Linked DNA regions of Homo sapiens: all the other regions are reported to be linked to region 1. Evidence: microRNA targets listed by miRTarBase, many of them from high-throughput screens and not tested one by one. Region 1 holds a microRNA gene; each other region holds the end of a gene's coding sequence.
The links. The annotated mature microRNA hsa-miR-4490 reads UCUGGUAAGAGAUUUGGGCAUA and lies in region 1 at 1,634-1,655, opposite strand. An mRNA with a match to its seed (bases 2 to 7 or 8) in the 3' UTR can be bound and repressed. Matches are read on the target gene's strand: a 7mer-m8 pairs with bases 2 to 8, a 7mer-A1 pairs with bases 2 to 7 and ends in A, and an 8mer does both.

Region 2: the mRNA of SOX12 is a reported target of hsa-miR-4490. Seed matches in the 3' UTR shown: 7mer-m8 at 1,434-1,440.
Region 3: miRTarBase lists SLC24A2 as a target of hsa-miR-4490. Seed matches in the 3' UTR shown: 7mer-A1 at 467-473.
Region 4: the mRNA of BARHL2 is a reported target of hsa-miR-4490. Seed matches in the 3' UTR shown: 7mer-m8 at 514-520.
Region 5: miRTarBase lists NUDT16 as a target of hsa-miR-4490. Seed matches in the 3' UTR shown: 7mer-A1 at 3,165-3,171.

What each region holds. Positions count from the first base shown.
Region 1 is chr11:90,554,152-90,558,634 of GRCh38, forward strand. MIR4490 (microRNA 4490) reads right to left here and starts at 1,706; the gene lies at 1,623-1,706. The region is part of intron 2 of DISC1FP1 (DISC1 fusion partner 1); the gene reads left to right.
Region 2 is chr20:326,375-330,374 of GRCh38, forward strand. SOX12 (SRY-box transcription factor 12) reads left to right here. Exons shown (of 1, transcript NM_006943.4): 1 at 1-3,850. The coding sequence ends at 498. Among named protein-coding and RNA genes, the nearest start is that of SOX12, 2.8 kb to the left of the region's middle. RefSeq lists silencers at 1-307, 668-737, 778-1,067.
Region 3 is chr9:19,512,676-19,516,675 of GRCh38, forward strand. SLC24A2 (solute carrier family 24 member 2) reads right to left here. Exons shown (of 11, transcript NM_020344.4): 11 at 1-3,727. The coding sequence ends at 3,478. All of the region lies in intron 4 of LOC105375988 (a long non-coding RNA gene), which reads left to right. Among named protein-coding and RNA genes, the nearest start is that of MAP1LC3BP1, 51 kb to the left of the region's middle.
Region 4 is chr1:90,708,684-90,712,683 of GRCh38, reverse strand. BARHL2 (BarH like homeobox 2) reads left to right here. Exons shown (of 3, transcript NM_020063.2): 3 at 60-1,145. The coding sequence ends at 372. Among named protein-coding and RNA genes, the nearest start is that of BARHL2, 6.6 kb to the left of the region's middle. RefSeq lists an enhancer at 1,132-1,700.
Region 5 is chr3:131,382,621-131,386,620 of GRCh38, reverse strand. NUDT16 (nudix hydrolase 16) reads right to left here. Exons shown (of 3, transcript NM_152395.3): 3 at 1-3,459. The coding sequence ends at 3,280. Among named protein-coding and RNA genes, the nearest start is that of NUDT16, 2.8 kb to the right of the region's middle. RefSeq lists an enhancer at 3,839-4,000.

The DNA of each region.
Region 1 (4,483 bases):
TTTCTAGTTGCTATGCTATAAAAGTGAAAAGACTGGTAAAATTCATTTCAATAGTTATTTAATTTACCCCAATATGTCCAAAACATAGTTTTCAATGTATGTCATCCATCACTTAATGACAGGGATACGTTCTGAGAAATGCATTGTTAAGTAATTTCATGATTGTGCAAACATCAGAGAGTGTACTTACACAAACCTAGATGGGATAGCTTACCCTACACCTAGGGTATATGGTATAGCCTATTGCTACAAATCTATACAGCATGTTACTGTACTGAATACTATAGGCAGTTGTACCACAATGATAAATACTTGCGTATCTAAACATCTAAACATAGAAAAGGCACAGTAAAATTACCTTATTATAATTTTATGAAGCTACCGTTATACATGCAATCAGTTGTTGACCAACAGTTTGTAATGTGGCTCATGATGGTATATTCAATATGAAGTCATTAACAAGGTTTTTTTTAATAAGTTTTCAGATTTACTGTATATATTACACTCATAGCAAATCTCAATTGGGAGGAGTCAAATGTCAGATGCTCATTAGCCACACCTGCCTATTGGCTGCAGTAATGGACAGTGCAGCTCCAGCGTCTCCCTTTTGTTTTATCTTTCTACCATGATATGGTTTCATGATTTTTATCTCATCCACTGGCTTTCAGCATGTCCTGATGTCTTACTATCTCTCTCTTTCCCTCCCTCCCTCCTTCTTTTCTTCTCCTTCTCCCCTTTCCTGTCTCCCTTCTGGTTAAGGCCTCTGTCCTAAACATCCATTAATTCAGTAAATACTTTTAAGAACTATATTCAAGATGAGGTCAGAGAGATCAGTTATTTATAACATAAGTTGAATTACTGCTCTCAGAATCCATTATGAAGTCAAAGTCCTATGTGTAGGATTTCAGTGCATTCATAAAGGAAGGAAGGTTTAGAGGTTGCACAGGTCCATGAAGAAATCAGCCTATGCTTTTACCCAAAATGTTCCCTCTGCACACATATTCTTTGTTGTAAATAATTTCTATGTAACATACATGTTGCTAAAACACTTTGCAAAAGTAAATTTACCTTCTCATGTATAATTTGTAATATTTTTGTACATTATCCTATGAAATGGAACTGTTATGAAAAGCAAGTGGACATTGACACAAACAATACTAACTCTCTCTCACCTCTCTCTCTTTCCAAATAAATTATTCCCATTACTTAGTCTTTTAATCATATCTCTAACTTTTGAAGTCTTTTGTGATTTTGAGCTTCTCTCACCAAGTAACCTTTTTATATCACTTATTGTTAAAAACCCCATCAATAGCCCATGTTCTAACATGCCTTCTGCTAATTCACTCAATCGGCAAACATTTATTTAGTGTTTAGTATATTTCAAATATTGTGATAGGTTTTAAATAGACAGATGATAATTACATTAGTGAGATGCTTATTTTATTTGTCCTAGTGCAGATACTCATGAACTCATACTTTATGCCCCACTGAGTGTGGCTTAACTGAATTTTCAGTATATCTGATAACAAAAAAAAGAAAAAAAATTAAAAATGTATTTAAAAAGCCAGAGACTCCAGTGAGAACGTAATAATGTCTATCTCTGACATTTTGGGGTAATTAGTTTAGTTTCTAATATGCCCAAATCTCTTACCAGAGACCATTAAGTTCTGGTCTTTGGCCAGAGATTTGAGCATTGCAGAAACTATACTACATACTTAAATAAAAAATGTCAAACTATATATATAAATAAAAATTCCAAACTATATAAATAAAAATCCATGAATGATTATTTGTGTAATGATCATTACACTTAATCAGCCTAAGGTACAAAACAAGGTCACATATCTTTTACTATTTCACTTAAAATGTTGGAACTTTGATTTTCCTATTTTAAAACTCTTCTGCTTTACACACCAGCTTCTTCTCTTCTGTGATAATTTTACAAAACACTCACAATATTTTATTATATTGAATAGATAATTTCTAGTCATTCTTAGCTGGTTGTTGAATCAGAAATTACTTTCACAACTTCAGGCTTTGAGAAGGCCCAACTCTTCAAAGTGGTTACTTCAGAACAGTTTGTTGCACCAAGACAGAGATTCGTTGTTACACTTGACAGCCTAGATGTTCAAACTATTTAACTATTATAACAAAAATGTTACAATCTGTTATTCTAGGCAATGTAATTGAGACTGTTTCCTTCAACCTTGTAACTAGTATGATTCCAAATGATTTCATCCATTTAAAAAATACATTGGAACTTCTACTTCTGGGCAAGATTGAGCAATAAGGATGAATGTATGTTACAGCTTGAAAAAACCAAAACATGATACAATGGCTAACAAGGCACTGGTTGCTTGAAAACAAAAAAAAAAGTAATCTCTGAAAGATGAGAAACAAATAAATCCTAAAAATTCTTCCAATTCAGTGCGGTGAATTTCTAGGCAGCAGCACAGGGAGATAGCATTCAGTTGGAGACCTTTGAATTCCCGTGTTGTGGAGACAAAACTAAGAGTTGAGGAATAAGAAGGTGACTAGAGTTACCAGGGCAGAGAAAGGAATGCTACAAAGAGCGAGAACTCTAGAGATCAACAGAGGAGTCTCCTCAAATATTCAGCTGAGTGTTGACAAGCTCATGCATGCACAGTAACTGTATCAGGCCTGAGAAGGAACCACGTCAGACTCTATTATTAGAGGAAATAGTGACTAGTGCTTAAACAGGTGCTGGGACAAGTGCCTGTTCCAAAGAGAATCGAGAAATTCATGAGGCATTAGGTAGAGAACACAGAAGGTTCTTGCCTTAGAAGGATAATTTAACACTATGCTAAATGCTACACTGTTCTTGATTTATAAAAATTAGCAAGACATATAAGAAACACACTCTATCTAATTGACTTAAGTGAGTACCAAAATGAAACTTTTGACTGTTTTTTAAAAAGAATATTAAAAATCTGTCCCCTAAAGTACAAAATCCTTAATGTTTAGTATTTATTATTATTTTGCAAGCTGAAAAGCAAGAAAATGAAAACAATATTCAGGAGAACATTTAGACAAAACCAATTCACGACTGACACAGATGTTAAAGGATGAGGATATTATCATAGTTATAACTATGACAGGGTAGATACCAAAAAATATACAAATCAAATTCCAGAGGTAAAGACTAAAAATTTTGTAGTGAAAAATACAAGTTTTTTTTTTTTTTTCCCCAAGATGGCAGATTAGAGGCTTTTAGTGTGCCTCAGCTACTTGGAAATAGCAAAATAGTGCATAAAAATCTACTCTCTGAGCTTTAATTCAAGAAGACAAACAGGAAACCACTGCAATTGTGAAAGACATCCCAGATCCTGGGAAAAAGGTGGGCAAACTGTCGCAGTGATGGTGTCTGGCTGATAAAAATGAGTTAAGCCTCAGTTGGTGAGATTGGCAGAAAGCTTACCTCTGTGACTTGCTTTTGCACTGGGAATCTGAGCAACCCAGGACATGGGAGAGCACTTTATTTCTCCAAAGCCCTGGAGCTATCCTGGGGAAAAGGTTGGAGACACTGAGAGAGAGAGAGACACTGGGAAAAGTTGCAGGCATCTTCCAAGACCCGGGACCAAGAGCAGGATACCATTTTTAATTCAGATGCATAAAATGTCAGTCACTCTTTAGTAACCCATCAGTGTGGCCTCACAGGTATTTTAATCTCGAACCAGAGATTGGAGTGCTTGCTCTCGAGTGGGACGGGGGCCTCCACAGATAGAACTGTGGGAAGTTCCTCAGCAGTAGGTGCTGGATTTATGCCCTCCCCCATCACAAGCCTGGGGCTAGAGAAGAGCTGCTACTGCTGCAGTTTCTTCTAGCTGGTGACATGAAGCCAGGGCCAGCTTGGTGGCTTGTGTCACTGCTGGGTATCCCAGCCTTCACCCTTGAGATCATGGTATGTTAAGGCCCTATCCATTCCATGCCCAGGCAAATCTCCGGGCATTTGGAGCACCTGCTTATCTGGTATATCAGCAGACTCACCCACCCCTCCCTACCTGTGCATAGATCATCGTGCAGTGGGGCTTTCCCTGCTCTATCCCAGGCAGATCTCCAGGCATTTAGAGCACCCACTCACTTGAAACAGCAGCCTGAGCCACTCTACCCTTCTTGTACAGAGATTGTGATGAAGCAAAGCCTTCTACACTTCACACCTAGGTAGATCTTCAGGCATCTGGAGAACTCACTCTCCTGGGTTCGGTGTTTAGATGACACCCATACTCATGTAGAAAACTTGGAGCCAAGGAGGTTTCTTAGTGCCACACCTAGGCATATGTCTGGGCACTTTGTGGCTGGCACTGGATTCTCCCCGGTGTTGGCGCTTGTGCCTGCCATTGGGGGACCTGTAGGTGGGCCTGCCCAGAGAAGCCCCACCCAACTTGGCTCCCTCTCCTGAGGTTGAGCATGGAGCTCAGCCCACTGTGCAACCCGTGGATTAGCCCATTGCCTTAGGCAATGA
Region 2 (4,000 bases), not on the chromosome of region 1:
GCGGGAGGGCCTTTGGGGGGCGGGGCGGCGGCGCCCGAGGACGACGATGAAGACGACGACGAGGAGCTGCTGGAAGTGCGCCTGGTCGAGACCCCGGGGCGGGAGCTGTGGAGGATGGTCCCGGCGGGACGGGCCGCTCGGGGACAAGCGGAGCGCGCCCAAGGGCCGTCGGGCGAGGGGGCGGCCGCCGCCGCCGCCGCCTCCCCGACACCGTCGGAGGACGAGGAGCCGGAGGAAGAGGAGGAGGAGGCGGCAGCGGCTGAGGAAGGTGAAGAGGAGACGGTGGCGTCGGGGGAGGAGTCGCTGGGCTTTCTGTCCAGGCTGCCCCCTGGCCCGGCCGGCCTGGACTGCAGCGCCCTGGATCGCGACCCGGACCTGCAGCCTCCCTCGGGCACGTCGCACTTCGAGTTCCCGGACTACTGCACCCCCGAGGTTACCGAGATGATCGCGGGGGACTGGCGCCCGTCTAGCATCGCAGACCTGGTTTTCACCTACTGAGCCCACCGTCAGCGGGGCGCGCACGCCCCCAAACCAGCTGTTTACATACAGGAATCAGGTATTGGGGCCCCTCGGAGGCCGAGGCTGGCACCCCATCTCCCGCGCAGCCTGCCCCCTCCTGGACGTGCCCATCCCCCCTCAGATCCAGACATGCCCCTCCCCCGCAGACACACCCCAAGGCAGCCCAACCCCCACCCCTTCCCCGACACCCAAGCCCCTCCCCACGTCGCCCCCTCCTGCACAGCCACCAGCAGCCAGCCCCCTCCGATACACCTCCCGTCCTCTCCTACAGACCTGCACCCCTCCCCCCTTTTGCACACGCCCCTCCTCGTGGCCGGAGGACCCGCCCCCTCCTTTGCTCCGGAATCTCTCCTCCCTCGCCCGGCCCGCCTTCTCTGGGTTAGGGGGGCGATGCGGCCGGGTGGCAACGCACGCGCCTCCTGCGCCCCTCCCTTCCCTGGGGGGAGGGGCGCACCCCTTTTATCCCCGGAGCGCTAGGGCCCGCCCCTCCGCTGGGGCCCACCCCCTTCGTGCGCATGCTTAATGCTTCTGGGGAGGAGGGGGCTGGTCCCAGCGGAGCCGCACTCTTCGCCCGCTCCGGGCAAAAGCGGGGGCGAGTGTAGAGCGATCCTGGGAAATCCTTTGATCCGGGAGCCCTAGGTTTCCTCTCCAGCCAACGGGGCGTCGCTGCCTTAATGGGAGGAGCACTCGGAAGGGTTGGTTTGGGCCTGAAACTCTCCCAAGTGGCATAGCCCCTTTTCCGGTATGGGGTCTCCTACACCCACGCGCACCACCTCTCCGGTCGCGTGGCTGCCTCTACAGCCTACCTATACGTCCCTTTTTCCCCCCAACTGGGAATTGAGAGGTAAGGTCTTTCTCTGGAAATCCAGCAGTAGAGGAAGGGACCACCCAAGAAAACTAAAAACCAAGGCACCTTACCAGTCTGTCTGGGGACAGGATCCCTGCTGCACCTTCCCCACCCCCTCCTGGGAAGTGCCCCCTCACCTCAGGGCACCCGCAACCTGGGCTCCTCCCTGAGCGCACCGGCCCTTCCTGTCACCCAGGTCCACCCTCAGTACTCAAGCTGCAGTATACAGCGGGAAAAACTGAGGCACTTTGGTGCTAGGGGTTTGGGACTGAGGCGTGGAGAGCAGATGTGATGGCAGGAAGACTCTCGCTTTTAAACATCTGGTTTGGGAGAGACCATCGACTTGGCCAGTGAGACTGAGAATGGATTCCGAGTAGTGATGGGCCGTTTGCACCTCGGTTTTTCCACGTGAGAAATGGGGAGAACGCTGCTGTTAGGAGGAAGTTGTGTCCAGTTCAGGGTGCCCTCGGGAGCCCTGTCCCTGTTGCTGTGGCCCCTCTCACGCCGCCATCTCTCTGCCCCGCCCCGCCCCTCCGGCCTCCCCACACCCCCCTTGCCCTCACTACCTGTATCTCACCGGCGTGTGTTCACCCTCCCGGGTGGCTCACACACTCTCATTCACACACACAAATCTCAGGAACAAACGGTCCCAGAGTCCTCCGGACCCCTGCCCAGGGTCTCTGCAGGTCTCTGCCCCACGCGTTCCCGTCGCTGACAAAGCCACCAGCTGCCTCCTTTAAGCTTGGTGCTCCGGCTCTGGGCCTTTCTTGCGCTCTATTTTTTTTTTTTTTTTTTTTAAGAAAAACAACAACAACAAAAAAAGACAATGAAAAAAAAAACGTCATGTGAGTGAAGAGATGTCACTGTCTGTGGTCTTGGAGAACTAGTCTCGTAGCTGAGGGGTGGGGTCCCTCTGTCTGGGGCACTGGCACCCACAGCAGGACTCCGCCAGTCTGATGCCAGGACTGAATAAAGTGTATTTGCCCCGACCTTGCCCTGTGGTTCTGCATGTCTGTGCTCTTCCTCAACCCTCCCTAAACAGTTTGCCAGATTCAAGTCCGTGTGATTTGGGCCCGAGCTGGGTGTCCCAGGGCAAGCCACCTTGCCTGTCTAGGCCTCTATGTCAGGACTCCCTGGCCTTCATGAAGAATAGCAAACTCATCCCTGTAGGGACCAGGCAGGTAACATAGACGAGTGACTCTGGGTGGACAGTGGTGTCATGACCCACTTCAAGGGGCCTACCTCCTGCCAGTTGTGACCCTGTGGGAATGCAGTCCACAGTGGCCAGGTGGCCAGATTTTTCAAGAAAAGCTGGATGGATGTTTCTGAGTCATCTTAATTTCAAAATGAGACTCATATTTTAAAATTTCTGTGGGCCAAATGAAACAAGTATGCAGGCAGGTCTGGTCCGAGGGGGCTGGCTTGGCCATGCCTTTCTGTGCCTTTAATGAGGACTAAGAAGCAAGATTGGGCCACACTGTCTGGACTCAAAGCCCAGCTCCACCACTGAGCACCCGTGTGACTCTTTCCATATGTATAACGTGGGGATAATAATAATAGCTGCTTCACAGGATGAAATGAAGTTTGAGGTGAGAAGCATTCACCATGGTGCCCATCGTGTTACTCCATTGTCAGAGGAGGAAACGGGGTCAGGCAGGAAAGCAACTTAAAGGAGGGCCTGCAAGCAGCCAGGGTCAGAGACAGGGCTTGGTTCTGCTTCCTGGTGAAGCATGGCTTCGGGGTGCTGCCTCTCCCTCCCTGTTTGAATCTGCAGATTGTGTTAGGCCCCCAGCTGAGGGCCTGGAGTGGTGGGATTGGTCCCAGTGCCTGGCGCACATTGGCCTGCAGAGTAGATTAACTGAATGACCAAAGAGCAACAGAAGTCTAGTGATTCTTGTCTTTGAGGTTCTGACTGGTGTTTTACAACTGAGTCCAAGGCTTTTCCCTCCTTTGTCCCTCTGACACCCCTCCCCCTAATTCTCATCTGTCAGATCCAGTGTATTCCTAAGCTGGGACAAAGCCTCTGTTTTCCCAGTAGGAGCCAGGGCTGAGTGTGGAAATTACAGTGACTGCTTCTTCTCAGCTTCTCTGGTTGAAAGCAAGCTGGCGAAGTAAGAGGAGGTAGAGTTGAGAAGGTGTGGAAGATAGGGACAGCTGCCCCCAGAACTCCCTTCAAGGGAGGACTTCCCCAGCTATGGGAAGTGCCATCAGGGTGGCCGCAGCTGCAGAGAGCCACTTCACCTGAGACCACGCCCTTCCTGGGGCAGCCTGTATCTGGTGTCTGAGTGAGGCATGGTATAAACACCTGGTCATTTCAATCCAACATGGGACGGACACTGACAGACAGTACTCCCAGCAGGCCCAGGCCAGCCAGGGCTTCGTCAGGCCTGCAGCACAATTTGACTTCCTATGCCCAGGCCTGCTTCCTCTTCTTCCTCTTCTTTTCACAGGTGCTTATTCCTAATAAACATCTTGCAACCCAAACTCAGTCTCATTGTCTGTTTCTAGAGAAACCCAGTCTACAACAGAGGGTTCAAGAGACTGGACAAAGGGAATTGGGTCAGTGGCCCAGCAACTGCAGCTAGGCCGGTCGGATGTATCCTAATGTCAAGAGTCTGTTCACCGATGCCATCA
Region 3 (4,000 bases), not on the chromosome of region 1:
CAAGCAAGACCTGCTCGGTTTGCTGTGAATAAATGAAATCATTTGCGTGCAACTCATTTATTTTAGATTGATTAGTACAATGTTGGCTCTTGAATTGTTGATATCTTTTATACCCTGCTCCAGAGAAGCAAAGAGAGTATCTGCAGTCTAAATTTTTGCTTTGTATTTTCTGTTGTGTATTCTTTGCCTCTATATCAGCATTAGGGATATGGCTGACCGATTTCCTTAAGGCTATAAATTGATATTCTTAGGGTGGGAAAATATGGGTACATATGTGTATATTTGTAAATATATGTGCATGGAACAAACAACCTTATGAAATCAGGAAGAAATGTTCCCTTTGGTTTGTGTGCATGACTTTCCTTTTCCTTGACTTTGGCAAACTTGATGCTCCCTGCTTTAGAATCCTGAATGTGATAGGGTCAGAGGGTGATGATGTAAGTCATATTATATGTGTACATATAGATCTGGTATAAAGATATATATATATATATATATATGTATATATATATATATGTATATATTTATATATGTATATACACAGGCATGCAGGAAACGAGTTAGAGATGACCTGTTTTGGAAACCACGGTGTGGAAAGTTCTTATAATTATGCCAATGATTTGAATGGTTTAAAGACCCATTGTTGAACTCTGTACACATCTCTCTGAATTTACCCTGGCTCAACACATAACCACTTACAGACACAGAAATGAAGGGAAAGCAAGGGCAGGCTGTGGAATCACTTGTGTCCCATCCAGTGAGGGAGCAGTGCTGTTGTAGGTCAGGCTCAGTGCACATGACTGATGTGGGAACGGGGCTTGGAAATTTTGTCTTCTCAAATGCAACTTCACATGAAAGACCACAACACTTCCTGTGAAGTGGAGCTCCGAGACAAGCAAAGGGCACCATAGCTGCTTTGATCAGCCTTCACTGTAAGCTGGGAATAAATGGGAGGGAGTGAGGAGGCAGAGGGAGGATCAGGAATAAGAAGAGGGCGGCATCAGGTCTCCTTCAACTTCTGTTTTACATGGTCTGTTTGCAGTTGAGTCAGTCACCTATTTAAACCTTATTTCAAACAACGCACCAGTCAATAATATAAAATTCACACAATAACCAACTTGGTTGCCCTTCAAGAAATACACAGGGAAAACAACTGGAGTTTTTAAACGTAAAGTTCACTTCCTCATTCTTTCACTCTCTAAGGAAGCAGGACAAATTCTTGCCCCAGTACAAAGTCCTGACCTTGATGAATGAGATTCATTCCCATTAGGTGGCAGGTTCCACTCAGCGCCTCTATTGGATGGTGTTTCAATGTCTTGGAAGGCATTGTCCCACATCTGAAGACCCCAATCTGCCGAGTTGGAGAGACTTGAAAGCCAGCCTCCGACTGGCAGCCATCTTGATTTCTTGTTTTCCCAGGGGGCCTCGGGTTTGAAGTGCTTTTTACTTCTGGGTGAAGAGGAATGATGGGCATTTCCTGTTATTGCCATGCTCTGTGGGGTGAGCTGAGGTTTTCTGGAAGGAATACTGAGCTTGATCTGGGGCTGTCAGGTTACCTTTCCTCTTATTCTGCTGTGAGTTCTGCATCCTGTCCTCTTATGTTAAGAGGTATGTGCTCACAACAAAATCATAGCAGGCGTCAATGACAGAATAGATTGGAGATAGGAACACATATGGTGAAATTTCCCATATGCCATATGTACCAACTTAGACGTAGGATGGGTACAGAATAATGAACCATCCTTGATTCAATTTTTCAACTGATTTTAAGGAAAGCATGACTTGGAGAAAAGAAAAGTGCTCTACATAGTTTTCCATTGATTCAGTTTGCCTATTTTTTCCCCCTTGCTGGCTTTATTTTCGACTGACATAGATCTGAGAAAACACACAAGGTGTCATACAGAACTTGGGGGCGTGGAATATTTTAATTTCATGCATTCAATGTAATGTTGAGCAAAATCAAGAAATCAAATTGTTGGAGTGAATAGCTTGAAACCAGTATAAGGAAGCTGTCAAATACCGTGTACTCTAAAACTTAGACAGAATCCCAGATAAGGTCTTGATGGAAGAAGAGACATAGATGTTACAAGAACTTTAACCAAAGCCTGGTCCTGGTACCACTCGACCTGGCACTCAGAAACCTTCCTGGGGTGCACTGAGTGTGCAAATGCCTTTCCAAGCATCGCTAAGTTGCCTCAACCCAAGCAGTGCTGATCAGAGTTAAGTTAGTGCTATTGGGAATAATGATTTCTTCAGACACTAAAGCCCTTTATGACTACACTGGAAAACGTTTTAAAGAACTATGCCCTTACATCCCATTAGGTGGCAAGGCCCACTAAGCACCTTTACTGGATGACTTCTTATTGCACATCTAGGCTCTCTTGGCAGCCCTTAGCATCAAAATATATCTACATGACAATCACAGCTAAACTTACCCCTCTTCTTTTGATGATAATGGGACATGCGCTGGAAAAATACAGGTTCAGTTTATATAGTCTTGCTGTCCTAGAAAAAGCACTAATTTGGTTTGTAGTCATATTTTCTACTTGCATGCTGGGACAATATAAGAACAAAACAAAACAACCCAACCCTGGTTACCTCCCCACTTCCCCAAACCAAGCCACCCAGCCTGGGTTTTTACCTCTTTCTGTCCTAAGTACCCTGAGTTTCTTGGTCAGGGTACTCTGGTGGAGGTGGGCAGATAGTCTCTCTGTTTGGCTTGTAGGAATGTTTTGGAAGGCTCAACTCAGGGCCCCTACAGACCTTCTCCACTAAGCCCTCCTCCCTGCAAGCTATTTCCCTAAACCATCTACCTTACTAGGCAGGATCACAGCAAGTCCAAGGTAGGCTGAAGGTCACAGCAATGCTACCTTTGTCTTGTTGGTTCCATTAGTTCACCTCTTGTACTTAAGAGGTAAAGCCCAGACTGCAAGTTGATGCCCCTCTTCAAATAAGTACTATAAATATACTAGAGCTATCCCTGAAAAGATGCATTTGTACTTTTATATATATCTGATTTTATATATATATATATAATTTTTCTTTGTCTTTATTTACAGGTATGTACTAATCTATAGGTATGCAAGGAGAGGTATAGTACAGGAACAGGCAGGATTTGTGTGTTCATGTGCGTATATTTATAATATGTGTATTTATAGATATATATAGCCTGTGTCCTTGTTTGCATCGACTGTACCTCCGACCAGCGAGGTGTACTTGTCAGTGGTGAATAGGGAGAAGCCCTGTATTGACGGTTCTCTTTGTCTTTTACATGAAGTCATTTCAGTAGGCAGGGTGGAAGCAGCCTGTGAAGTGAATGGGCCCAGTGTGAATCCATCTCTCCTCAAATTCACCAAGGAGGGACACTTGGCACCCAGGGCTGTGTGCCAGCTGCCTCTTCTCAAGAGGTCAAGGAGCCCAGAGCCCAGAGTGTGGAGGGACCATTCATGCTGCTGGTGCAAGATATGGCTTTTCCTGCTAGATGGAGACGGGGCATGTAAGAATTCTGTCTTCTAGGAGAACGCTCACCACCAGGAACACAAAGTAGAGGCCAAACATGATGAAGCCCAGGATTTTGTTCATTCGCCACTTGCAGAGGGCGATAGAGAGGATGACGAAGAGCAGCATGATGAAGAGAAGGACGATGGCACAGAAAAGGCCATTGCTGCTGACAGCCACTGGCTGGAATCTGTGAATGACGGTGTACAGGAGCCAGGGCAGTGGGAGCCTGTGCAGAAGTGAAGCAGGGCAGAGGGGAGTGGGAAGACAAGGGAGTAGTCAGACACGTTGAAGAAGGCAAATATAACCTATTATTACCTTCTCAGGAACTCTAAACTGAAAAGGGTGTCTTGTTAGGTTCACTATGACTCGGGCATGGTTGGCCCAGGAAACCACTTTATAAGGAAATAAGACTTTAAAAACCTTTATGTCCTGACTGAATTCAGAACAGGGAGAACAGTTAGACAACATCAAAGACATGACTGCTGTGGGTGATTTCTAC
Region 4 (4,000 bases), not on the chromosome of region 1:
TCTTGGTGCCTGGACCATGCCCACAGCTGCTGGGTGCCTGCACACCCGCTTTCTTTCAGGACCAAGTGGAAGCGGCAGACAGCGGTGGGCCTGGAGTTGCTGGCCGAGGCAGGGAACTACTCGGCGCTGCAGAGGATGTTTCCATCGCCTTATTTCTATCACCCAAGCCTGCTGGGCAGCATGGACAGCACTACGGCGGCGGCGGCTGCCGCTGCCATGTACAGCAGCATGTACCGGACTCCTCCAGCACCCCATCCCCAGCTGCAGCGGCCCCTGGTGCCCCGTGTGCTCATCCACGGCCTAGGGCCTGGGGGACAGCCAGCCCTTAATCCATTGTCCAGCCCCATCCCAGGCACCCCACACCCCCGGTGAAAACATTGCAGCGAAGGCACTGCAATCCCTTCCCCATATCCCTGCCCAACCCGGACTGCTGCCCGTCCTCTCCCTGCTCCAGGCCACTAGGCCTCCCTTGCAGCCAACTCTGGAAGGCAGAGGAGTAAGAGAGGAAGATGCTTACCAGTGGGCAGGGGACCCCCAAAGAGGAGCCAGCCCTCTGCTCTCCATCTCCCCACCCCTAGAAACAGGGCTGGAAATCTCCCCCACAGCAGTGTGACTGGTGAAAATGCTGACCCCACACAGAGTGCAACCAGTAAGTGAAAACATCAACAAAAACAAAACCTCAAATTCTTTTTCAAAAATGACTTTAGGGACAAGCAGGAGGGAGGGAGGGGGGAGGGCTAAGGAGGGAAGAAAGAAGGGCACGGAGCGGAAACAGCACAGGCAGAGTGAACTATATATGGACAGCCTCAAGTGCTGAGGCAAAGGGCGTTGCCGAGGACATTCCGTCTGCCCCAGAGAAAAGAGGAGGGTAACTGAGAACTTTGCACTGATTTCTCATGACCTTTTTTCTTTTGGAAAAGTGGCATGCTCCATAATATGAAAAAAATGTACATTTGAAAGACTGAGTGATAAGTGATATATCATATTTATTATATGTTGTCCAAAAAGAGTCACTTATATACGTTAGTAAAAACATGATTTTTCTTTTCATGTCTTTTCGATTCAGTAAAATAAATGCTTAGACAAAAATATAGATTTTTTTGTGATTGAAAATTACAAAAATAAAGTTTATCTTTTTTTAACAAGTGATGAAATCCAAGGGAGCTGATTTTACTAAAGCAGAATGTACTATGATGAAGTGCTGACTTGGTTTAGAACAACAAATTTCTTCTGAAATATTAGGAATTTACAAAATCCGTAAAGAGGTTGGGTTGGCTTGTATAAAAGCAGCTCCATTTTTCGTGCTGGCCTCTTCCGAACCATTATTTGATATGTATGAGTTCCTTTCTTTTTAAATGGATGGTTTCAAAGCAACCCAGGAGGCTGTGGGAGAAAATCTGTACTTGCAGGCTGCGGGTGCTGGCTAAGTCGGCGGCCAACTTTGCTGCCGTCCTGACCTGCATAGAGGCCCCAGCTTCACCGGTGTGGTGATCCCTCTGTCCTCCCCTCCTCCTTCTTCTAGGGGTCTTCCTGGGGCAGCGAGGGTCCGAAGCGCTGGGCAGCGATGACAACGCCGGCAGGGGCTGGGCGGCAGGCGGACGCTCCTCGAGCCTCGCAGCTGTTCTGCTGCCCGCGGCTGAGCGCCGGCGAGGTCGGACAGCCTGTGAGCGGGAGGCTGTGGGACGAGCAATTAGGACGCCCCCGGGGGACTTGGAGAGGGCCAGCTAACAAACCCTTGTGGCGGCTTTGATCGTTGCCTTCTCAGTCCCTGGCGGCGGGCGTCCAGCCCCCAGCCCCATGCGGAGCCGCTTGTCCTAGTGAGTTCGTTGTGCTGCGATGCCTGGAGTTCCTTTGCAACGGTGAACTCAGGCTGAGACTGGCTGCCAAGCCTTTTATCTGCACCCCTGGGACAGCTGGGACTGCAAAATAGGAGACCCTGCCCAGAGTGTGGAGGAGGCCCGCTGCCTGCTTTAGGAGTGTGTGTGAGTGTGTGTATGTAAGTAAATGTTTGTAGCACCCTGGCCTAAGTCAGTCATAAGCACCACCCCTCACCCCCCGCCAGGCTGGCTCCCCACCAGGCTCAGTGCTCAGGACTGTATGAAGGAGCCACTTAGTGGAGCATACAGTTCCCAGGTTGCTCCTACTCCTCTCCAGCCCCCGGGTCACTTCCTGAGTAGCCAGAGTCAGACCTCCTATCTGGGCATCCTCACATTTCTATCCTCACTCCTGCCCTAGTACAGTGACAAAGGGGTAATACAAGCAGCTAAAATACATCTGGACCTGGCCTCCAACTTTCTCTGATGGTTGAACCTTAGTGTAGTTAAAAATGTTTTTAAAAATGTGAAGTGATGTGGGAATGTATATTTAGGAGGGGTGGGAAAGAAGGAGGGAAGAAAAGTGAAATCCAGGTGGAAATTGCCTGGGGGCACCTTGATCAGACCTTGGCTAATTAGGAAGTGGTTTGCAGATTTCTCTCCAGCTCATCAGTTTGCTTTAAACTTGGTCTTGGTCTTGTTTGATTCTAACAAAAGGGTCTGGACTGGCCCTTCTCATTTTCTGCCTGCTTAGCTGAGACAAACTCAGCTAGCTGGGCTTGGCTGGAAATTGGGCGCCGCTATGTCCAGTTAGGATGTCCAATACCTAGGCACTTAGCAGACCCTCCTTGTTTCATCTTGCAGTTGGGTTTTTTGATCAAGTTTAAACAGTTTAAAAGTGGTCTGCCTAGGCCTAAAAAGGCACTCTCCAAGGTTTGAGGGTGCTATAGCTTCTGTTTGCACTGAAACTGGGGCTGGTCAACTCTAGGCACAAGGAGGGATTTGAGAGGCCACAGAGTTTATGCATACAAAGAATCTTTACAAAGAATTAACTCAGATCCAGGTATGAAAAACACACAAAACTACAAATCCAAATAAGGCCAGAGCACCCATTTGCTGCCAGCAGTCCCCAGCCACCTGCAGGATGGTGGGCCGGGAAGTCTGCCCACTGCCGCTTTACACTCAAGGCTGAACTTGGACTCCTGAGGTGGACAATGCAGGGGGAAGCACTGTGCCTACAGAGACCAAGATCTCTTAATCAACCTCATATTGCTCTGCTGCTAGCAATTACTCAGGATCCATTAGGGTCCTCCCCAAATCCAAGTTTCTTCAAAGTCATGTTTTCTTTCACCCCCTAAATCATGCAGCTGAATGTGTCAATGTCCTTTCTAAATTTGTTTGGTTACCTGCTGTTGCATACAAGTTGGCAGATTGGATGTTGTGGGGTGGGGGATATTGTCCCAGGAAGAAAGTTGGGTGGGTGCCTGGTTCCTTCCTTCCTTCCTTCCTTCCTTCCTTCCTTCCTTCCTTCCTTCCTTCCTCCCTCCCTCCCTCCCTCCCTCCCTTCTCTCCTTCCTTTCTTTTTTTCTTTTATTTTCCTTTCTCTCTTTCTTTCTTTCTTTCTTTCTTTCTTCCTTTCCTTTTCTTTCTTTTCTTTCCTTCTTTTTCTGCAGCAGTACTGCAAAGGGCACCTCAGCAGGTGCCCTAGTATTCAAAAGTCACCTGCTTAAAAGTCAAATGCAAACTCAATTTTTTTCTTCACAAAGGGTCCTTCTTTCCTTCTGTGCCTGCTCAACTAAATTAGGAGGTTGGCTAGGAGGTGAAGAGTGCAACTCCAGGTTTTCTGAGAAGCAAGGAACAAGGTAACAGGCAGAGGCCTATTCTCATGGGAAATCTGGAGTTACAGAGAAGCAGAGGACAGCTGTCCCTGGGAACTGTACTCTTTTTCTTTTTTCCCACCTTCAGCTGGTGTCTGAAGGGCACTCCGTGGCTGGACTCCATTTAGATTGCTCCTTTGATTAAGTCGGAGGCTAGAAAAACAGAGATTTTCAGTGGCAATCTTTGCTTCCTACAGAAACACAGTAATACAAAGTTATTTCAGAGAGACGTTTAAAGACCTACAAAGGCCTCTTAGATTTGCCAACACCAAGATCAGCTCAGGGACCCCAGCAAACCTACACAAATCT
Region 5 (4,000 bases), not on the chromosome of region 1:
ACCTTGCAAGAAACAAAATGTGCTGTGAAGCAGGAAAGTACATAGCATCCTGTACTTTCATACCGCTCAATGCATCTCTGCAAGCTTATCCCAAGTGCTGCCTCATCTGATCTCACCACAGGAATCACAGCAACATTTCAGATAAGGAAAAGGAGGTCAAGGGCTTGGGTCAAAGTCACCACAGCAGTTAGTGGGGGTCAAAGATTGCAATGAGCATTTCTCTTCTTCCTGCCCCAGATGATTGGACTTAACAAGGCCAAGGAAAGCTTAAGTGGGTCATCATCCCTGGCTTTCCTTAAACATCAGCAGGGTGGGAATGGCTAACAGGAGGAGAAACACAGAGTGTGAACTTGTATCACCCCCCACCTGCCTACCCAGAGACTGTCTATGTGAGTGAGATGAACACAAACCCCAGTACAGTGAAACACTTTTATGAAGGCTGCCTGAGAGGTAATCTACTGACTTGGAGAGTATGTTCAAGGGATCATATAGGAAAGTCATGGGCTCTTCCCCACGCAACCATCTCCAGAGACCTAAATAAAAAGCAAATTTAATACGAATAAGTGGACAGATGAGCTGCCCAGTAGGCAGGCACTGAGAGACTGATCAGTGGGATACTCAAGCAGAGTGAGACAGAGCGGAACCTTCCAAGTGGTATTAGTGTTGACCTGGATTACATCCCATAATGAGTTCTGGATCCAGAATTACCTGAGGGAAGGGGTCTGTTAGCAGTGCCATAAAGGGTCAGTGGCTCTGATCTCCCAGGCGTCAGGGTCCCTTGCAGAGATGACTGAGAACCAAGTGCACAAAGCACAGATGAAGCTGCTACAGGCTGGAACCCCAGGGGCCACTGGAATGTCCATTTCCTGCAGCCTGCCTATACTGAGGTTTAATCTAGATAACGTTTGACAAAAGGGTCAGGGTAAGATTAGGAGATGATAATTAACCTCTAGGAGTCTACCTCATTGTACAGCTGCTCCCCCACTGGGTACTCCCATTCTTCTAAGACCAAGGGCTGCCAGTGGGACCCACACTGCTCTGCATCAAGCTTCCAGACCACTGCCCACCCTCCCTTCCTCAAAAGGCTCTCACCTGGGAGATGCTATCCTGTCATGCCTGCTTTCCCCTCTGGCAGGTGCCACTGGCCTTGTGGCCACTCCTCTTGTTCACCAAGGATGCTGACTCCTAGGTCACACCATTCTCCTCAACATCTGTCGGTTTCTTGCTTCAGCACCCATGTGGAGGCTCACCCTGCCCTCCAGCCTCGCCAACCCTAGATTTCACTTCTTAAGGCTCCTCCCTGGCTCTGGCCAGCAACCCCAGGTCATACCCTCTATTTTGCCTTTACCTGAGATTGCTCCACCTCTCAATTTCCAAAGCACTCCTGTCTGGCTCAAATATACCTCCCTGCCCAACCCCTCACCATGCTGGAGTTTCTATCTTGTCAAGACCTCTAATTTCCTAATCCCTCCCTAGTCACCTCCTGTTTTCAATTCCAATTTCTTGGTCAGATTAAACCTTAGACTGCACATTTCATCACTACAATTTCTCCTGTGTATGTCTTCTGAACTGACCCATCTTTCTCTCAACTCCTTTTACTTCCCTGGCAAAACCCCAACACTGCAGTAAGTGTACCCATCCCAGCTCCTGAATCCTGATGAGGGGAAGACAGGTGTGTGCAGAGCCCCACTCAACACACACACACCTGAGTGCCCAGCATCCTACTCTAAACTGACCATCTCAGAGCTCAGCCTTGCCCTGCCCTTCTGCTGTTGCCTTAATCAACCTGTTTTCCAACACCTAGGAAAACATCTACTTCATACCTTCTGAGAACACACTCCACCCACAACTAGCTGATAGTCTCACTTCATTTCACAAAGAAGAGATTCAAACTCCTTCATCATTTCCCCATTAATTTAGTCATCCTAATCTTCTATACTTGCCCCTTTCTGTTTTATTGAGCCATATGAGGCTGCAGGACTGTGTCTCTTCCTACAAAGGTCCCATCCCTCCTTCTTTCTCATGGACTCTGCTCCTTCAGGGGTCCTCCTCTTTGTGCCCCTCCCATCTCTCTCATCACACCATCTTGACTGTTGCCATCAATATTGGCATGCTCTACCTCCCATCTTAAACATGCCTTGACTCCATAGCTCTCTATTATTAACCTGAGCCCCTTGAAGGCCAACTTCTCACACGTTCTACTCCCCAACTTTCCATTCACTCAACCAGTACAGCCTGCCTTCCATACCGCCCTTCCTGAAACTGCTGCCATCATAGTCATCAAACACTTCATGTTACTGAATTCAATGGACAGTTTTGCCTCTGTTTTAGTGAAACCCTCACAAGCACTCTGCATAGTCCGCTTTCTGTCTTCTTTAACGTGCCTGGTTCCCTCTGCCCAAACTTTTAGGATTGGGCCTCCTCAGGGCCTTGTCCTGAGCCCTCTTCTTTTTCTCTCTCCATGGATTACCTCCTCCAGTCTATGTTTTTATACCACCTTTATGTAGATGAAGTGAAGGCAGGGTGGTGCTAGACTGGGGTGGGTCAATTCCCTTCTGATAGTCTCGGAGTCTCAGGCATCCCAAAGATGAAAGCTCTAGAGGAGAGACACCAGTCCTCACAGGACTCATGTCCATGCTCAGTCCAAGGAGACCTAGCCACTTCCTTACCCTTCCTGCTCAGTTTCAGAAGAAAAGGATTGGGGATTGGTTGGGCTGCTCTCCCACCTTTTAAGAGCCAACTGCTTTGGTCACCACTCAAGACAAGAGCAAGTCTATTTTCAGAAAGCACAGGGGGTGCTCTGTTTCTCTATCCTCCCTAACAAATAGGCTGGGCTAGACCCTGGAGGGCAACCATGGAGGAGTGTGGGAAGGATTCACCCTTGCTTCAGAAGCTCCTTGCAATCAGGGACCAGGGTAGTGTGACAAATGCCACTTCAAGGTTAAACTGGACATGACCAGGGGAAGGTGTCAGGCTGTGTGTTGTTACAGATTGTATATTTGCATGCCTGGGGGTTACCAGGCTGTACGCATATAAACAGGGAGGAGGCAGGCTCTGAGAACCTGCCAGGGTGCCTGGGATAAGCTGTGACTTTTTGCCCCTGATGCCATAAGTTGGAGGGTCCTCTGCTCAAAACATATGGTACACACTTCTCCTTCTTTTCATCTGGTATCATGTATCATCTCTCAGATCCAATAAGAAAACATTCCCACGTCCTTCCCTCCCTCCCTAGTACCAAGGTCCTCATCTCAGTTTTCATGGGTCCATGGAGGGCTGCCTCTAGTGATGAGCTGGAATCTTAAGGCCTGAAATAGAGCCAGACTGCAGCAGTCCCAAGTCCTGGAGAGCTTCAAGTAACTGCTCCCGCGCAGAGCCAATAAAGGAATTCTCCAGGAAGGTAGGCAGGCCTCCTACACCATCCCGCAGGGTATACAGGGGCACTCGCACCAGGCCCAGCACCTGTAAAAGGAAGGAGACAGGAGACACTAGGGCCCCAGGTGGCTCATTCCCTTAACTCCATCCTTTCTCCAGCAGATCAGGCCTCACCCCTTAATACTCCAGCAGAACCAGGCCCAAGGCTCACACCTCACTAAAGCCTAGTGGCCCAACCTTCTGCAGGAAAATGACCCAAAACATATTATCTAGCTCTATCAATTAATCTTTCCCACATCTGCTTCTAAACCTCTAGTGGCTACTGCCTCAAAGATGTATTCATACCCTTTCACCAGTGGTTGTCAAAATGTGGTCCTCAGATTATTTGCATCAGCATTATTTGGGAACTTTTGAAAACTACAAATTCTCAGGTTTCCTCTCCCCCCGCCCCACCACCAATGCAGGAATGCTGAGAGAAATCGCTATTTTAATAAGACGCCCCGATGATTCTGCTACCTGCCAAATTTTGAGAACCACCTTCATACATAATCTATCTACTAGCCCTGCCTGAAATATCAGGGCCACATCTCCTACACAAGAAAAGCAAACCCCAAGAATAAAACCTAGG